Homo sapiens: one gene and its partners. The protein of the gene in region 4 interacts with the protein of the main gene of each other region in a pairwise test. Each region holds a gene or a part of one and is shown on either strand. Other genes may lie near its edges. The genes, in order: PNLIPRP1, SMCO4, CNIH3 and SLC16A2.

What was found.
Region 1: the proteins of SLC16A2 (region 4) and PNLIPRP1 interact in a two-hybrid assay, tested with the Homo sapiens proteins (one large-scale study listed by BioGRID).
Region 2: the proteins of SLC16A2 (region 4) and SMCO4 interact in a two-hybrid assay, tested with the Homo sapiens proteins (one large-scale study listed by BioGRID).
Region 3: the proteins of SLC16A2 (region 4) and CNIH3 interact in a two-hybrid assay, tested with the Homo sapiens proteins (one large-scale study listed by BioGRID).

What each region holds. Positions count from the first base shown.
Region 1 is NC_000010.11:116,600,089-116,604,992, reverse strand, and holds part of PNLIPRP1 (inactive pancreatic lipase-related protein 1 precursor), read right to left. Parts: coding exon 4,828-4,904; intron 3,922-4,827; coding exon 3,792-3,921; intron 964-3,791; coding exon 855-963; intron 1-854. UniProt on the Homo sapiens protein: May function as inhibitor of dietary triglyceride digestion. Lacks detectable lipase activity towards triglycerides, diglycerides, phosphatidylcholine, galactolipids or cholesterol esters (in vitro).
Region 2 is NC_000011.10:93,477,230-93,481,843, reverse strand, and holds the end of SMCO4 (single-pass membrane and coiled-coil domain-containing protein 4), read left to right. Parts: intron 1-2,559; coding exon of another isoform or gene 2,560-2,654; coding exon 2,655-2,834; coding exon of another isoform or gene 2,835-2,974; 3' UTR 2,975-3,372; downstream 3,373-4,614.
Region 3 is NC_000001.11:224,723,709-224,728,612, reverse strand, and holds part of CNIH3 (protein cornichon homolog 3), read right to left. Parts: intron 2,690-4,904; exon of another isoform or gene 748-2,689; intron 1-747. UniProt on the Homo sapiens protein: Regulates the trafficking and gating properties of AMPA-selective glutamate receptors (AMPARs).
Region 4 is NC_000023.11:74,518,103-74,523,006, reverse strand, and holds part of SLC16A2 (monocarboxylate transporter 8), read right to left. Parts: intron 2,018-4,904; coding exon 1,873-2,017; intron 1-1,872. UniProt on the Homo sapiens protein: Specific thyroid hormone transmembrane transporter, that mediates both uptake and efflux of thyroid hormones across the cell membrane independently of pH or a Na(+) gradient.

The DNA of each region.
Region 1 (4,904 bases), on a different chromosome or scaffold from region 4:
GGCCGGGCATGGTGGCTCACGTCTGTAATCCCAGCACTTTGAGAGGCCGAGATGGGTGGATCACTTGAGGTCAGAAGTTCGAGACCAGCCTGGCCAACATGGCAAAACGCCCCCCATCTCTACTAAAAATACAAAAATCAGCCAGGTGTGGTGGCACATGCCTGTAATCTCAGCTACTTGGGAGGCTGAGGCACGAGAATTTCTTGAACCCGGGAGGCGGAGGTTGCAATGAGCCAAGATCGTGCCACTGCACTCCAGCCTGGGTGACAGAGCAAAGACTCTTTCTCAAAAAAAAAAAAAAAAAAAAAAAAGAGAGAGAAAGGACGAAATGCCTAGGTTTATAACAGAAAAGAAAAATTATTAGCAGAAGTCTGCAATTAACATCAGTACATAAAGTTATATAGTCCTGCGTTGCTTAACAATGGAGATATGTTCTGAGAAATGTGTCCTTAGGTAATTTAATCATTGTGTGGACATCATAGCATGTACTCACACAAACGTAGATGGCACAGCCTACTACATACCTAGGCTGTATGGTACAGCCTATTGCTCCTAGGTTACAAACCTGTACTACATGTTACTGTATTGAGTTCTGTAGACAACTGGAACACAATGGTAAGTATTTGTGTATCTAAACACCCAAACATAGAAAAAGTACAGTAAAAATATGGTATTACAAGCTTATAAAGCAACTGTTGTGTATGTGGTCCATCAACTAAAATGTTGTTACATGTTGCATGACTATAATTAAAAACCAGTGACATATAAAGAGATGATAAGTGTTCAAATTAAGTGTGTGGTTTGAAGGCTGTGTATATCATCAAATGAGACGTAGTGTTAAAATAGGAAATTACCTGAAGATACTGTACTGGTGAGTGTTTCCCTTATTTCCAAACAAAGCAACTTTGATCTGACCAGTGGCTGTTCTTCCAGACAGTGTGATGGAAACCCCATATCTCCAGCCTGCACAGGAGATGGAAGAGTTCAATTTATTCACACACAAAATAAGTAGCCTACATCCCAGACTTGTCTCCTTCTCTTACTCTGAGGCAACAAAGCATAAGAAATTCTTTTCTAAAAAATTATTATTATTATTTTTTGAGATGGGGTCTCACTCTGTCACCCAGGCTGGAGTGTAGTGGTGCAATCTTGGCTCACTGCCACCTCTGCCTCCCAGGTTCAAGTAATTCTTCTGCCTCAACCTCCCTAGTAGCTGGGACTACAGGCACACACCATCACGCCTGGCTAATTTTTGTATTTTTAGTAGAGACAGAGTTTCGCCATGTTGGTCAAGCTGGTCTCCAACTCCTGACCTCAAGTGATCCGCCCGTGTCCGCCTCCCAAAGTGATGGGAATACAGGCGTGAGCCACCACACCCAGCCAAAGTATAAGAAATTCTATTTGTTAATCTACAAATCAAACAAGGCCTTATGGAGAAGTATGTATTTAGCAGTATCCCCCTCTAGAACTGCATTGCCCAGGGAGGAGGTCACCAGCCACATGTGGCTGCTTACATTTAAATCCAAATTAAATACAATTAAAAATTTAGTTTCTCAAACTCATTCGCTGTGTTGCAAATGTTAAGTTGCCACATGAGGCTAATGGCTACACAGAATATGCCCCTCATTGCAGAAAGTTCTGTTAGCCAGCTCTGCCCCAGAATGGCAGTACAGTAAGGTAAGGTGAAGAGAGAGGGAATAGGGGCTTGTCTCCACATTTGGGAAGGTAGCTCGGGAGTGCAGCCTGGCAAGCACCTCGAGGGCGGGGACTGTGTTTCCTCTCTGCTCCCCAGGGCCCTGGGCAGTCTCTAGCACAGAGCAGGTGCACGAGCAGCTGTCACTTAGGCTTCTACCTGAAATGCTGTCCCAGGGCCTGCATGCACACGCACACAAATACAAATACATATACACAAACATATGCATGTGCGTGCACACACACAAATACATATACACAAACATATGCATGTGCACACACAATACATATACACAAACATGCATGTGCGTGCACATACACAAATACATATACACAACATGTGCATGTGCACACACACATACATCTACACAAACATGCATGTGTATGTGCACACACACACAAACCTACACACATTTAACCACGCACATACATAGACACCCACATACAAATATACATACACATGCACATACATATACATAAACATACAGACTCATATACATACGTATATAAACACATGCATACACACAAAGGTACATACACAAACACACTCACACATGCATTCATACACCCACACATGTGCACAGATGTACATTAATATACACAGACATGATTCTTGCCTAACTCCTATTCATCTTTCGTGTCTTCAGAGACCTTGACCCTGACCCTCCTTCTGGTCAGGGCCAGGTTCTCTGTCCCATAATGTCATGGCAACAGCCACCAAGCCCAACACGCTTGTAGTTGCTTGCCCAGTTTCTGTCTTTGGCTGGATTATTAATTTCATGAGAGGAGTCTCTTGTTCGTCCCTGCATCCTCAGTGTCTAGCATAGTCTGTGGCCCATAAATAAATGTTGATTGAGGAATGAATACCTGGTTTTTGAGTGTTTAATTTGTTGTTGAAATATTGGCAAGTATTTCATGCATCACAACATCAGTGGAAGGATTGATTAATCAATGTCTTCTTACAAAAAAAATACACAGAGTGGGCCGGGTGCGGTGGCTCACGCCTGTAATCCCGGCACTTTGGGAGGCCGAGGCAGGCGGATCACAAGGTCAGGAGATCGAGACCATCCTGGCTAACATGGTGAAACCCCGTCTCTACTAAAAATGTAAAAAAAAAATTAGCCTGGCATGGTGGCGGGCGCCTGTAGTCCCAGCTACTCGGGAGGCTGAGGCAGGAGAATGGCGTGAACCCGGGAGGGGGAGGTTGTAGTGAGCCAAGATTGCGCCTCTGCACTCCAGCCTGGGCGACACAGCGAGACTCCGTCTCAAAAAAAAAAAAAAAAATTACAGAGTGATATATATGGTGATAGAAGTGTTCTGTATCTTGATTTGGAGGTGTTTACACAACTATTCATTTGTCCAAACTCATACAAGTGTATGCTAAACAGCGTGCATTTTGCCAAATATAAATTATACCTCAATAAATCTGACTTTAAAAACTATGTAAGATGTGTTATACATTTATATGAATATGTAACCTCTGTCTTTACTGGGTCACCTCCTATGGAAGTGTCATGGGGCAGGTTGGTACAAAGTGGCCCAAACATGCCCAGTCTCTACCCTGTGTCTTAGTCCATTCAGCAGGTTTTGGAGAGAAATCATCCTTCCCCCTGATTCCTGCCTGCACTCCACCAGCGAGGCAGCCCCTGGGCATCAGGGATGCACAGACAGAGGGGAAAGCAGAGAATGGAGTTGGGCTTCTTAAGGGACATAGCCCAGCAAAGAGCTGGTACCAATTACGTCTTTGCTGAATGAAGAGAACAGGTGTGTCTGATGCGGCCTTAAAAAGGAAAGAAACAATGAACTGTGGAGTGGTAAAAATTCAGGGTAGCTGGTCACAAGGATGTGCAAACTGGCCTCATCCCATTAATTATACTAGTTGCTTGCTCTCATTTCATGCCGCAGAAATAGAACGGAAGAAATGCACACTCTGTCTAAATCCTCAGTTTACTTGTAACTGCAATAGTTTCGGTAAATGTGTCCATTTCTAAGATAATTAAAATGTACCCACAAATATTTCAGGTTGAAAGCAAGCCCCTCATTTGTAACAGAAACTATATACTTTCTTTACATGGGCAGGTAGTCAAAGTGCAACTTACGAGCGAAATTGCTAGCCTCTCCTGTGTTCAAGAAGAATTTCTGCTGCTCTTCACTTGTCCTGCCAGCAAATTTATCAGCATAGTGACCCATCTGTGGGCATCCTTGATCTGGACACGGGAAGCACTTGTCCTAATGAGAAGAGATAGATGGGACTGTAAGGAGAATTTGTGTTTGTATGATCGATACATCTGAGAGGGCAGACACTCAATTTTCCTACAGCCTAAGCGTTCTCCTTTGTGACAACAAAGGGGTTGGAGCAGATGATCTCTAAATTACCTTCATCTGGATCAGGGTTCCCAACTTTTAGGCACAACACATTAGAATTATTTGAGGAGCTTTAAAAAATACTGATGCCCAGGACCCAGGTTAGATCAATTATACCTTCTGTTGAGTGGAGCTGGTGAATGATAAGCAGCAAAAGCTCTGGGACAAAAACCCTGGATTGCAGTGCTTACCATTTTCAGTGGTGTAAATACTCTGACTGTGGCCAGTTTCAGGCTACCAACATGATGTCTCTGAATTTGGAGTTGGGAAGGGATACTCATGCTGGCTTTCGTGAGCCAGAATAGGCAGGCTCTAACCTGTCATTCTTCATCTCTCCCCTTGTTGCCAGCCTGGCATATAGGACTCCAGCATCCACCTTGCTTTCTCTCTGGTGTGAATTATTCTCTATACATTCTTCTACTCTCGCTCTGCCCTTGCCAGAAATGTGCATTCCTGTGTTTTCTAAACTGTATCATTTTTAAGCTAGATTCAGAGGTTGCCTCCTGCAGGAAGCCTCTATATCATTGAATTGACTGCTCTTTCTCTCTGATTTCCCAGTTTTCCTCTGCCACATAACTCATGTCATCTAAAATTTTAGCCATCTCCTGCCAAAAGTTGTTTACTTTTTTTTCTCTTCCACTCCACAGGACCATGAACTCTGAGGGTCAATGCAAAACGTGTAGTGAGAAGGCATTGCAAATCCCAAACGCAGCAGGACAGCAGTCCCTCAGAGGGGTGATGCTTGTTGCTCGAGGCAGGACAATAGCTTACAGACTCAAAGGACTTGTAGGAAGTGCAGGGATATGCAGCAAACCCATCGGGATTGAGGATGCTTTCCAAGTAATACT
Region 2 (4,614 bases), on a different chromosome or scaffold from region 4:
AGGAATTTGGGAGAGACAGCAGCGGGCTCCGACAGGCCATTAGCTCCACAAGGAAATGGCCACGAATCAGAGTGCTGCTAATGGCTTGTTTCTTTTTAAACAATTTTTTTGAGGCCGTGTCGGAGAGAATAGGCTGCCATTTGCAGCTTTGAACAGGAATGCTGTCCATTGCTCTGTTAGAAGCCATGGGGTATTTACAAACTGGGTGACTGTTGGCAAGACATTTTTCCCCTTTGCTCCTTGGTTTCCTCCCTTCCGTGATGGGGATAATAAAGCCTGTCTGTCTGACTCACAGGGCCGTTGGGGTGTGTTCCAGGTGTTGGTATGTCAGCTAGCACGAATTCGCCGCCCGCTCTGTGCCAAGCCCTGAGTTATACAGCTTCCTACTCCATCCTCACCACGGTCCCGCGAAGGTGGGCATCACTCAAGGCTGCAGTCAGGCTTAGAGGAGCTCAGTGCACCCGTCCCTGGGCCGCCCACGGGTATGGGTGGAGATGTCTCAGCCCACCTGTACCGCGTCCCTGCGGGCGGGCAGAGCTCTGGGTACAGATGCATTTGTTTTCCAGATTCTCACAGTCATCCTTTAAGACAAGCTGTTCTCATTGTTCAGATGATGGCATGGAGGCCTAGTGGAGTTAAGTGACTTGCTCAAAGCCATTTAGCCTGTAAGTGATTGGTCCTGGATTTGAAGGCAAGTCTGCCTGGAAGTCCTTTGGAAGACTTGAAAAGGAGAATTGGTAAAGCCAGGGGTTCCTATACCTTTCAGGCCTTAAGAAAGTAATAGTAGGTGTTTTTTTTTTTCTCTCTGTTCCTTATTTCATGAAGGAAATTATACATTTGCCCAAATGGCGCTTCCCTTAATATTTGCTGAACCTTAATGTTTGCTTTTGATTGGCATTATGCCATCCTAGCACAATAATATTTGTCATCTCATACCTTAGGAAACTCTGCCTGATTTTGAATGATACAAAAAAGGTTTTGGGGTCTAAATGGAGTGAGAGGAATGGTAAGAGATTAAGTATCCCTCATAAAAACAGGATGGTGTCAGTAAGACCTTTCCCAACTCTGAGTTCACATTCTACCACCTCGGTCACTTAGGTGTAAATGTCATCTTCCTCCTCAAGATGATGACAGGCCACCCACTACCCTGGGACAAAACAGGGCAGACAGTATACAGCATAGGTCCCTCTGCTAGAGGAACATTGGTATTCAGTGCTCTTCTGCTTCCAAGAACCCCTCACTCCATGCTACTCTCCGAGAATATTGTAATGGACATCTGCCTTTGATATAGCCCTGATACCCAACCCCACTCCGTCACTGTGTTTGAAAAGTACTCTTCCTGCTGTACAAATTGGAAGGCTAGGCTGTGGGCATATGGGCCGGGGCTTGGCTAGTCACACATGCATGGAAGCTGGTGATGCAGAATGCTGGGGGGTGGCGAGTTCATCTGGAGACTGTGCCAGCAGCCACATCTAGTTTTTGGGGGTGGTCATGGTGGCTCGGCACCTCCTGCTCCAGTGCCCATGTCCAGTGCTGACGGTGGTGATGCAGGCTCTGGCATCCTCACACTGGGAGTGTGAGTTGGGCTCCAGTTATGGCAGCACAGCATAATGTCCTGCCCATTTTCTGAGCCTGGTTCTTTGGCTTTTCTGGGAATCAGTGAGATGCCAAAGGCCTTTAAGTAAACTCGATTTAAATCAGCTGAAGTCTGCTTCATCTGCTTAAAGCTAAGAAGCCGACTTTTATAGAGATGTTCCTCTGTAGTTATCCAAACATTTGTATTCATTCTTCTGGCCCCTGAAAGTTCTACTTCACCTGTTAGGCACCTCCGTGAGCTACAGAATTAACAGGAGAATCCCAGGTTGAGTGGGTGGCAGGACTGTGGGCTCAGCCGTCTCCCTTCATTATTACTGTGACCCGGGTCTCCATCATGCCCCCTAGACGGTGACCTCTGTGGGGACACAACTGAGTCCTTCATCTCTATCCTCAGCTCCTTGAGTAATGCTTGGCACACGGTGGGTGCTTGGGAAGGTTTGGATGAATGGGCCAAGGAACCAACAAAGAGATGAGAGAAGTTGATGCCTGTGGGCTCTCTGCAGCCTTAATGAGGCTGGCCTGGCTTGGGCAGGAAGGGGGCTACGTGCCTGGAGACTGCAGGCTGCCTGCAGTTCCATGCTGGAGATGGGCTGGGGAGATCATGGAACTTAGAGCAGGAAAGCAAGTAGCTAGAGCCACGAAAGGGAGAGCCGCTCCTCTGAGTGGAGGCGGCGTAGTTGGTGCTTCCCAATCCTTTCACCTCATGGCATGTACAGAACACAGTATTATTTGTCTGGTACCCAGGGCTTTGTCCAGCTGGCGCTGGAGCGGAGGCCCCTCTCACAGCACACCGGTGACCCAGTGCCCACTACTTAGAGCGCTGATCCCAAGAGAACTTAGAGCCTGGTGTGGCCTCTGTTCTTAGCCCTTTGTCATGTAAGTTGCAGATATTTTTCCTAGTTGTGTATTTGCCTTTAAGTGATTTATTTTTTCTTCTATTTGGTTTATTCTCTACTATCACAGTTGTTCTCTCTACAGGAGGTTCCAGCCTTGGCAAGAGGAGTGTGGCCCTTCCTGGAATCCCTCTGGACACACCCTCCTAGCATCCTCTAGGAAAGATGCGGCAGCTCAAAGGGAAGCCCAAGAAGGAGACCTCCAAGGACAAGAAGGAGCGGAAGCAAGCCATGCAGGAGGCCCGGCAGCAGATCACTACAGTGGTGCTGCCCACGCTGGCCGTGGTCGTGCTCTTGATCGTGGTGTTTGTGTACGTGGCCACGCGCCCCACCATCACCGAGTGAGCCCCGCAGCCGGCTGCGGACCCCATCGGCAGGGAGAGGAGGCGCGGGAGGGGGACGCAAACAAAAAATGGCTTTCATATTCAGAGATGTTCATGTTGCTGAGCTGTAAGCAGGAGCACCCTGTCTTCTCTGGTCTTTGACTTGATTAAAGTATCTCCGCTTTCTTGGGAGGGAATAGGGGATGTTTTATCAGTGAATGTGCCATACACCTTATGGTCCACTTCATGTGCCTTTCAGACTTCAAAGCGCGCGCGCATGTGTGTGTGTGTGTGTGTGTGTGTGTGTGTGTGTGTGTGCTTCTTTTTCTCTCCTAAAAATCGATAAGTAGCTCCACCTGAAGAGGGATGGAACCTCTGGGTCAGGAAACAGCTGGAATCCACACTCACCTCATTCCCATTGTTTGGATCATGCTTCTTTCCAACACGTGTTCACAATCTCCAAAGGGACTGTATTTCTTCTCTGTGCTTAATGTGATTTGAAATATGTTGAATCAAAGTGAAATATTTATTTTTTGAATAAAGGAGATAATAGCCTTAAACTGGATGCTTATCATGTTTTGCAAGGAGGTGCTGTCTGTGGGTCTCCCCCTGCCCACGGGTCTGCCCCTCTTCCCTCCCCTTCCCTTTCTCCTGTGGCTCTCTCCACCTTCCCCAGCACTCCCTCTGCTCATCATTTCTGAGTAAAATTATGCTTTTTGACCGATAATTTTAAGATGGAGAGGGACAGAAAGGGTATATTAATTGGCTTGCTTTAGAAAGTGAGAGTTCTAATTAGACTGTGACGACAGGTGCTTTTTACACCAGTTAGTTTTTCCTACTTCAACTCGGTATGTTTGTGCAAACAGCAATACAGAGTGATCCTGGAAGTAAAGGTCAGGCTTGGTTTTGTTCTTAGCTGAAAGGATGCAAATTGTTGGCATTCCAGCTGAGTTTTCAATGCAAATTGGCTGGAATGGTTGCCTCATTTTATTCTAACAGCACTGCTCAGGCGGTCCTGGTTCCTGATGGAGCAGCCTCTTTTTGGAAGTCAGATTCATGGTTACTGTTCTGAGGATGTCTGTTTTCCTGTCATTGCTGATTATGGAGATCTGTGGGGAGAGAAGTGCTTTTCCTAATCCCCGTGGCTGCGCGACTCGCTCACAGATGGCAGAGGCTGTTAGTGGAGATTTGGGGCCTCTTGGAGTGAGTCTCTCTGGAAGACGAAGCAGCTATTGAAAGGAAGGACTTCTCTGGCTGATGCCTGGAGAGCCTGGACTCAGCAGGCTGACAGAGCTCTGCGGCCCCGCTCTGTGAGCTGGTCTCAGAGAGACTCCGTGTCTCCTCATGCTCACTCAAGGGCCAATGGCCCTGGTAAGAGATTTGCTAAAATACTTGCCAAATTCAGAGGCTGCTAGCATCAAGTTCCTCTGAGGTTTCTGTTTTCCTCCCCTTTATTTGGTTCTGTTATGAACTTCAGTGCTTGCTGGTCTGAGAAAGACTGCAGGCCACTGTCCCAAGGACTTTCTCATTCAGGGGCTGGAGGGTGGAGGAAGGCGTCTGCGGCCATCCCTGCTCCTCACAGGGGCTGCTGTGCGGCTGATGAGTCCCCTTCCCAGGGCAGATGCTGTGAGGATGGAGCAAGGACAGCCTGTCCACTCCAGCAGAAAGACCCCAGTCTGCATGTCTTGCAATTACCTGATCAGCATTTAGTTCCCAGTCTACCACTCAGAATTGTGGATTACTTAACCCCACTGAACCTCAGTTTCCCTGTCTGTAAAGAACTGGTAAAGTCACTTTCAGGA
Region 3 (4,904 bases), on a different chromosome or scaffold from region 4:
GACATGCACAGCACACGTGTAAGACATTTTGTAACTATGGGGCACCTTCTTTATTCTCAAAGTCCAGTGTAGATGAATTGCATTAACCCTCACCTTAGACTTCTCAGGCAATCACCTGAGGAATCAGAGCAAAGGAGCCATCATTCCAGAGGTGGTGACCCTTGGTGGGTGAAGCAGGTACCACCAGCCCCTGTGAATCTCAACCACCTGGCAGGAGGGGGCACGCCATGTCCCTATTGTATCTCCTTATAGGACCTCAGAGCTGTGATAACCAATCCTATCTACCCCCAGCCAAGGCATCACCCTACCCCCTCCCATTCAAAGAGAAAGCCCACTTTCTCAGAGCTGGGTGCGCCAGCCCCGGGAGGCAGTGGCTGTGAGTTCTGCTATGCACATCTCTACATTTTCTAATCATCAGTTTCAGCCACTTAAGCTGAGGCAATTAACATGTTTAGAGACAGCCACCGTGGGCCTGAATCATCCATTATTTCTCCATCTCCATCTCCAATTCCAATGACAAATCTCTGACTGATTACAGTTTGGATTTCAGGTCCCACTCTTAATCACCACTGCTTCTTCTCTCTTTGGGGCTTGATTTATTGTGGAGGCTGCAACCTTCCAAGCAGGGAGGATTCATCACTGTCTCCACGTAGAGGAAAACTGCTTAATGCAGGCCAGCTAGTCACGGAGGTCTCCAGCCTTTTGGAGGTTGGGAAAAAAGCTGAAGAATTTATTCTGCCATTTCAGGTGGCTTCTCTAGATGACCTCTTATGCCTAGAACACTGAACAGGATCCTTACAAGTAGAAGAGGCTCCTCCAATTAATCCAGAGACTTTTAGGAGTGACAGTGACCTTTTGATACACACACTGATCCTTGCCTACTTCACCAGCTGCTTCTTGTCACAATGATGTGGAAGAGGTAAGGAACCTCTTCCTTCTAGACCAAATGGAAATCAGCCAGGCCATTTGCATGAGGCCTGCACCATAGCCATTATGGCTGCCTCCACTCACACCCAGCACTCAGCCTTCTGGAAGGTGGTAAGGTCTCATTTTCCAGCTCTCAGGGGTTGGGGCTGCTGATGGGCTGTGGGCAGAAGTGATGTGGAGAGAAGGCCAGACCACTTAACGGCTGATACAAAATTCTCCAGAGTCTCTTTTCCTTTTCCTCTGACAAAGCAAAAAGCATTTAGGATGGTGGGTACTCCATCATCCTGAAGCCACAAGTAAGGAAAGAGGCCCCCAGGCAACTCATGATGGACTAGAGTGTGAGCAGTAAAGAAACTTGTGTTGTTTTAAGCTGCCAAGAGTTGAGTGTTGTTGTTGTTGTTGTTGTTTTGCCATAGCATGATTTAACCTATCTCATATGATACCATCAGCAAGCCCCAGACTGAGTAATCAATGGGAAAAGCAAAGTTGTGCTCTTCACTGTTTATCCTCCCCCAACCATCCACTCAGCCCTTCCTTAACAAGCCATCGAGGCCGGCAGGACACAGCTCCCTGTCACCGGACATGCTCGGGCAGGGGCTGAATAACCACCAGGCAGGCATAATGCTCATTCATTTGTGTGGGCAGTCAGACCAGGCGTTCCCTCCCAACTCTGAGAGTGTCTGTTATATAAGGACCACCCCTAAAGCTTCTAAGCAAAATACAGAGATGCTGATGCAAGCGCTCACCACAGCCCCATGACCCTGAGTCATCCCTTAGCTTTGGAAAACACTTTTTTTTTTTTAATAAGAGAAGCTGTTGAATGGTGCCAATCTCATTCTTTCAACAAATGGAGAAACTATTTCATGCAAGCCACAGCCTATTGAATTGCCATGTATTATTACCCTGCTTTCTAGAGTCATAAATCCTAAATCTCAATATAAGTATTGTGGGATTACTGAAAGACTGCAATTCATTCCAACCAGGGGGATCATGGAAGGTTTGTGATCAAAGGGAAGTTGGAAAGGGCGAGTAAAACCTAATCACTTATGGGAACCAGAGGTCGGCATCCTAGAAGTGGAACAGTGAAAGCAAAAGCATAGAGAGATGGAAGTCACTGGTCTGGGGTGGCTCCTTAACAAGGCCACCTCAAAGGGCCCCTATTAAAGGACATTAATGATAACCGGTAAGGACTGTGTAAACGCTAACTGTATTCCACCTGTCCTGACTTCCTACCCAGATGCTAATAGTCAATTTTCATTTGCTGGCAAACATTTCCACCTGGATATCCCACAACCACTTTGTGCTGAAATTCACATTCCTATCAGTACCTGCAAACTTTATCTCCTAAATTTCCAACTTCTACTAACCATACCATCTCTGACTCCTTCTTCTCATCAGTCTCCATGTAAGTCTGTTTCCAAATCTTGCTTCTTCACAGCCACTTGCATTTGTTCCTTCCTTTTTATTTATCCTGCCCCTGGACCTCCTCTCCAGGCTGGTGCAAGAACCTTCTAGCAGGTTTCCATCCCTGCACACATGTGCCCTCCACCCAACAGAGCAGTATATGCCATGCTCAGCTCAGCTGTAAGCCATTGTCCACAATCTTGTTTTTCCAGGAATTTTACTTGTCTGCATTCTAAATATTTTATTTCTAGTTATGTATCCTCTCATTCATTCATGTATCCATTTGTTTGCTGTTTTATCCCATCAATGACCTGCAGCTGATTGGTACCCTTTATAGATTATGAAAACAATAGAATCGTGTGCCAAGTCCTGTCTTATTTTTACTACTGTGGTGGAGAGGGGCATCAGGGGTTGTGGGAGAGATTCTTCTTACCCCTAAAGGAAAAGAAGTAGGAAGGGGATGCTTGGAGTTGAAGCAAGGGAATAATGCTCCTGGTGGAGAAAAGGGATTCCTTAAGACCAGGGGAAGGGAGAAGATGAGGGAGATGAAGAGGCAGCAAGCGCCCCTGTTGTTGGAGATCCGTCTGCTCCTGGCTCTCATCATGCATTCCAAGGGCATAGGTTTTCTGAGGGGCTGGTGTCAGCATGCCTGGGACCAAACACTTTAAAAGTCACAGCTATGGAAGCCACAGGGAAGCTCCTGGCACTGAGTTTATCTTGAAGACAGTAGAAGCTGTGAGACTCAGAGTCTCTACCCATCTCTGAATGCCCCTGTCGACTCAGACAACAAGCTTTACAGCTGTAATCCCATAAGTCTCAATATATTAGCCCAGTGTCTCAAAGCATTATATAAATTCCTACAGTTACATAATACTCAACTGTGTGCTATTTAGAAAAGCAGCTACCCATGCTGAGTCTTATTTTACCCATCTGTAAAATGCCATACCTACCAGCCAGGGACACAGGATGTACTATGAATGACAGTGCTCTCAAAAGTGAAGAAGCCTCCAGCAAAAGAAGACACCACTATTGTTATTGTGTTGTGATCATTATTATCATTATTATTTTTTCTGAGATAGAGTCTTGCTCTGTCACCCAAGCTGGAGTGCAGTAGCACGATCTTGGCTCACTGCAACCTCCACCTCCCAGGTTCAAGTGATTCTCCTGCCTCAGCCTCCCGAGTAGCTGGTACTGCAGGCATGTGCCACCATGCCCGGCTAATTTTTGTATTTTTAGTAGAGATGGGGGTTTCACTATATTGACCAGGCTGATCTTGAACTCCTGACCTCGTGATCCACCTGCTTTGGCCTCCCAAAGTGCTGGGATTGCAGGCATGAGCCACCATGCCTGGCCGGTCATTATTATTTTTAATAATCATATACTAGATGATGACCATTCTCAGGTAGATAACTTGTTGCTCTTACCGTGAAAGTCAATGAAATGACCCAGAACCAGAGTTGGTTTCCTGATTTTTCAATTCAGTCTCCTGACTCCCTCTGATTGAACCAAGCTCCAGCTTCCTCAAGTGGGAAGAGAAACCAAGGGCTGTTTCAACAGCCTGCCTCTCAAATCATAAAAAACCTCAATCCTTGCCTGTTTTCAACAGCAATAATCCAGTTCTGTGTGTCTGCCCTAAGGTTTATTTGCCCCAGGAGCCAAAGAGTGTGGAGAAAAAGATACTATATCTTTTATTTGATTCCTCAGCCCATACTAAACTGGCCCTAAAACAGAGGATCCCTCTGGGATGCCCCGGACGAAGTCAGTATTCCCAGCATGGAGATCATTCTCCATTTGTTCCCAAATGAATAATCATGCACGTGAGCATCTCCAAGCAATGTCAGGAAACTACATTCTGGGCCCCTTTGCTCTCAGGAGGCCACATGCTCTTTAATCACTCTGGATGAAGGTCGTCTTTGGAAAGCCTGCACCAGCCTGGGCATCCAGGAGGGCTGCCCAGCCCCATAGGCCTTGCTGTGTCAGGGACTAGCAGCCAACCTCAAATGGCATGATACAGTAGGAACACTCCGCCAGCTGGGACTTGGGTTGGGTCGACTTGAGTGGTCCCTATTTGTTGGTGCTGGCATATTAAATGTTTTGACCTCCTGGAATTTGCATCAAAGTTTATTAAATAGTTTTAAGCCATAAGACAAAGGCTCTGCTACATAAGCAACTTAACACAGAATAACCTAGTCTAGAATTATAATCTTATTTAAAATTTTTTAAAATTTTTTGTTAAGAGATGGGGTCTATGTTTCCCAGGCTAGTCTTCAACTCCTGGGCTTAAGTGATCCTCCTACCTCAGCCTCCCAAATTGTGGGGATTAGCGGCGTGAACCATCATGTCTGGTCCTAGAATAATTTAAAAAGTCACCATAAAATTAATATGACACCTACTGATTTTATGTACACCAGGAACTGTGGCTGTGACTCAAAACCCTTTGCTGTTAGGAGCTCTCCTAAATGCCTGGACCAAGTATTGCTTTGATCTTGGCCTTCCATGGCCAGAATTGGACCCTCATGGCTGACCACTGGGGCCTGGGCCACTATTCAAGGGAAACCAGTAGCAGATTATTT
Region 4 (4,904 bases):
AGCTGGGCCCCAGGGATGGATGCCCATTGTTTGGGTTTTCCAAAGCCCCACCAGCCCTGCCTGCATCCTGCCCCATTCCATGTCATTCGGAGGAACTCAGGGCCCTGATTGAGACAACAGGAAGGATGATTTGGAGCTCTAGCCATGAGAAGAACCATTTTTCCACTGGATGTGAAGCCATCCAGAAAGTTTCTTGGCTCTGAAGATCCTCTTACAGAAAGAACAAAGCGGGTAGAGAAGAAGGTTAGGGGCTAGAGAACAGAACGCCTACTCCAATGTGCCTACAGTAGCGTGCCAGAAGAAAACACCACATCTGAGCTCCTTCCCCTCCTGTAATTGAGCCCATGTGGATTGGAAGGGAAATGGAATCCATATGTTGCTAATCCGTTTACACTTTGCTCTGCTCGGTCTTAAAAAACAGACCTTTGCTGTATAGTGCTGAGACTGGAGCTGCTTTTGAAGCCTAGCTCCTCCCCACAAGGAGCCAGGCACCAGCTTGCTGGGGGTGAATGAGGCTGACCACCAGAGGGGTTCTGAAAAGGTTTGGAGCTGCTGCCCTGGGAGTGCTGAGTAGTTTCCAGGCAGGACACGGTTTTTCCCTTCTCTGTCCCAGTTGGACAGGACGAAGCCAAGAAATGACTGCAGGCCAAATCCAAGCTCTGCTGTAGGGTAGGCTGGGCAGCTGGAAATGCTCAAGTCATAAAGAAAGCTGGCTTACCTCACAGGGCCCAGTTAAGGCAAAACACAATTATCATTCTCTACTGTGAGTGGAACCTTAGGCCTAGAGAGCCATGACGCTTTTCTGGGTAACTAAGCTCAGAAAGCAAGTCTCTGACAAATTAGCTCTGACCTCATCCCAGACATGTCACCACGGCCATTTCTCATTTCTGTGTTTCCAGGCTGGCATTCCCCTACATCGGCCCAAGCAGATTGGAAGTAGGAGGTACCATAACTTCCAAAGTGTCTTTGGCAGAAAGTCAACAGAGTTCTTTAGGAATTCCATATTCCTCAGGCTGTGGTTAGGGTATTTATTCTCCCTTACCCTACACACATTCTTCTGCAGGGCTGGCAGAAAAGAAAGCAGAAAATGAACCTAGAGCCTGCTTCTCACCTGATACTGCCAAGTTCTGCCAGTGGAACCAGTGGGACTAGGGTTTCAGTTTAGCCCAGGCCTAGCTGGGTAGCTGGGTTCTGGGTTTGTATCTCAGTAAGGGATATTGCTAATCATCCTTCTGATGCCCATGATGTAAATCATTATCTGTCCCAAATCATCCATATGTCAGCAGCCTGAGCTATCTGGAAAAGAGTCAGAAATGCTAAACATCCTTGGGCTCAGTTGACCTCTTTTTTCAGCATAAGATTCCTTTGGGAATCCTGTGCTAGGTGTTCACATGGGCTCACTCGAGAAGCTCAATCTTGGGATGGAAAGTGAGGTTGTGAGATGTGTGGCACACTGAAGGGGAATCAAATAGCAGAGTTGAAAGAGATGTAAAAAGACCATATGGTCAAATCCCCTCATGTTACAGATATAGAAATTGAGGCACAGAGAGAACAATGGTACTCATCAATTGTTCCATTGCCATTCAGTGGCCAAAACCGGACTTGGGCCCAGCTCTACGAACTACCAGGCTTAGAGTACTCCTACCACTTTGGAACTCTTAGGTCCTCTCTGGGGATATTCCCTACCAATGTGTCCTGGGGACCCTACCCAGATGAATTCACTGGATTCTGAATCCAGGGTGCAGGATCTTTGAGGGCCCTACAGGGCCATGGCCACAGGGGATTCTGCAGTGAGAAAAGTAACCCTAGCTAAAGCCCAGAAAAAAACCAACCCTCAGCCTTGGGGAAATAACCACCAACTCTTAGCCTTACCTGGTGAAGGAGCTGGTATGGAGGCCAATGAAAGCAACGGCAGCCCCCGCGGTTGCTGTGATTCGGCAGCCCAAACGGTCAGTGAATATACTCACAATGGGAGAACAGAAGAAGATCATACCCATCGCGAGGGCTCCGACCCATGCTGCAGAGAAAACAAGTGCAAAGACACTTTAGCTTAGTGTAGTGCCTGGTGGTACTGCTGGTATCTCAGCTCTTCTTCTCTGGCCTTTCACAGGGGGCATTGCATTGGTCTGCATTGCCAGCTTGCTAGTCCCTGATGTTCAGAGAGTTTTGCAAGAAGAGACTAGATATAAAACAGGGGATTCTATCACTGCGGTAAGATTTGGACTAGTCAATATTTCAGGCCTTTCCAGGGATGCTAAGCCAGATCTATAGCCTTAGGTTCTAAGCCACTGGCTTCAGGGGCAAAAAACATTGGGGTTAAGCTTTCAGGAGCTAAGGTCAGGCTTGTCTCCAGCATTAGAAGAACCCTGTGAAGACGATAAGACTAAGGAGTAGAGAAGGCCACAGACAAAAGCCCCCTGGAATTGTACTAGGATACAAGGCAAGTTCATAGGCCACCTAAAGATTTCTAAGGACACTGTGCAAGAGTCATGTAACCCTCATGCTGAAATCCGTCATCAGAGCCCATGTTTGGCAAATTCCTGACTTCAAACTCAAGCAGATATTATCCTGTTTCTAAAGGCTCTTAAGTGTCTATAACAATCCTCACTAAGGAGGAAGGAACTTGCCCTTTTATTTAGATTCTTCCAGACTGTTTCCCTTTGCTCAGCCCTCAGAAGGAAAGTTCAAGCTTTTTTTTTTATTTCGTCTGAAGGCTGTTATCAAGTTTCATCTTGAGCCTCTCTTTTCTCCGCCAAATAATCTTCGTTTCCTTAACTTTTCCTCTTAGCTTTAATTTCTAACTCTGAAATTAATTTCAGAACTCTCCTTTGAACACTTCCAGCTCTTCATCATCATCATCAAAGAGTGACACATGAGCTAGGCACTGGGCCAACTTCTGGCTCTCTCCAATTGTGGAGCCCCAATGGGCCAAAGGAGCTCAGTCTGGGGCTAGTCAACTGGCTGTGTCTCTTACCTCAGTGCCAAATAGGTTGCTCAGCTCCCCATTGGGAATCTTTACTTTGTTGGAGCCTTACCCTGAGCCCTCTCTGCCTGGCTTCAAAAGTACTAGCCTGGGACAGCAGGAGACCTTAACTTTTTATCACAATTTCACCTCTTACCTTGCCATTTCATCTCCTATCAGCTGTGAGATCTTGAGAAGTCACACAGCATTTCTCTAATCCTCAGTTTTCTCATCTGTGAAATGGAGATTAAAATTTCTGCTTGTGCCTGCCTCAAACATTTCTTTTTCTTTTTCTTTCTTTCGTTTTTTTTTTGTTTTTTTTTTTTTTTGAGACACAGTCTTGCTTTGTCACCCAGGCTGGAATGCAATGGCCCGATCTTGCCTCACTGCAAGCTCCGCCTCCTGGGTTCACACCATTCTCCTGCCTCAGCCTCCTGAGTAGCTGGGACTACAGGTGCCTGCCACCACGCCCGGCTAATTTTTTTGTGTGTTTTTAGTAGAGACGGGGTTTCACTGTGTTAGCCAGGATGGTCTCGATCTCCTGACCTTGTGATCCGCTGATGATCAGGGCCAGGCGTGGTGGCTCACGCCTGTAATCCCAGCACTTTGGGAGGCCAGGGCAGGCAGATCACGAGGTCAGGAGATAGAGACCATCCTGGCTAACACAGTGAAACCCCGTCTCTACTCAAAATACAAAAAATTAGCTGGGTGTGGGGGCGGGCGCCTGTAGTTCCAGCTACTAGCGAGGCTGAGGCAGGAGAATCGCTTGAACCCAAGAGGCGGAGCTTGCAGTGAGCCGAGATCTCACCACTGCGCTCCAGGCTGGGTGACAGAGTGAGACTCCATCTAAAGAAAAAAAAAAAATCAGATAAAATTATATGTATAAGAAGAGAACTTTGTAAATATCAATAATCACATCATGTTTAAAAATCAATGCAAAATGGATCATAGACTTAATGTAAAACTTAAAACTATAAAACTTCTAGAAGAACATATAGGAGACAAATCTTCCTGGCCTTTGGTTAGGCAAAGATTTTGCAGATATTCACAAATCGTATGATCCATAAAAGAAAAGATTTGATATATTAGACTTGATCAAACTTGAAAACTTCTGCTTTTCAAAAATAGTTATGAAAATGAAAAGGCAAGCCATAGACAGAAAAATTTTGCAGCACACAAAATCTGACAATAGACCGGTATCCACCATACAAGAGTGAGTTGACTCTCATAACTCAATAATAAAGCAAACAATCTAACTTAAAATATGGGCAAAAGAATTGAACAGAGATTACACAATTACACATGTGCACATACATTTATGATATGAATAGTAATTAAGCATATAAAAAGATGCTCAACATCACTAATAAGTTGAGAAACGCATATTAAAACCACAATGAGATAGCCCTTACCAAGAAAGCCTTTTTTCTTTTCTTTTTCTTTTTTTTTTTTCTTGAGACAGAGTTTCATTCTGTCTCCAGGCTGAAGTGCAGAGGCGCAATCTTGGTTCACTGCCACCTCTGCCTCCCGGGTTCAAGCAACTCTTGTGCCTCAGCCTCCCGGGTAGCTGGGATTACAGGCGCACGCCACCATGCCTAATTTTTTGTATTTCTAGTAGAGATGGGGTTTCACCACGATGGCCAGGCTGGTCTCAAACTCCCGGCCTCAAATGATCCACCTGCCTCAGTCTCCCAAAGTGCTGGGATTATAGGCGTGAGCAATGGTGCCCAGCAAAGAAAGGTTTTTACAAAATGATAATACCTAATACTGGGAGGATATGGAGGAACTGGAAATGTAATACGCTGCTGGTGGCAATGCAAAACAGTACTCACTTTGGAAAACAGTTTGGCAGCCTCCTGTGAAGTTAGTCATACATTTACCATGATCCCGAAAACCCACTGCTAGATATTAACTCAAGATGAATGAAAACTTATGTTCACAC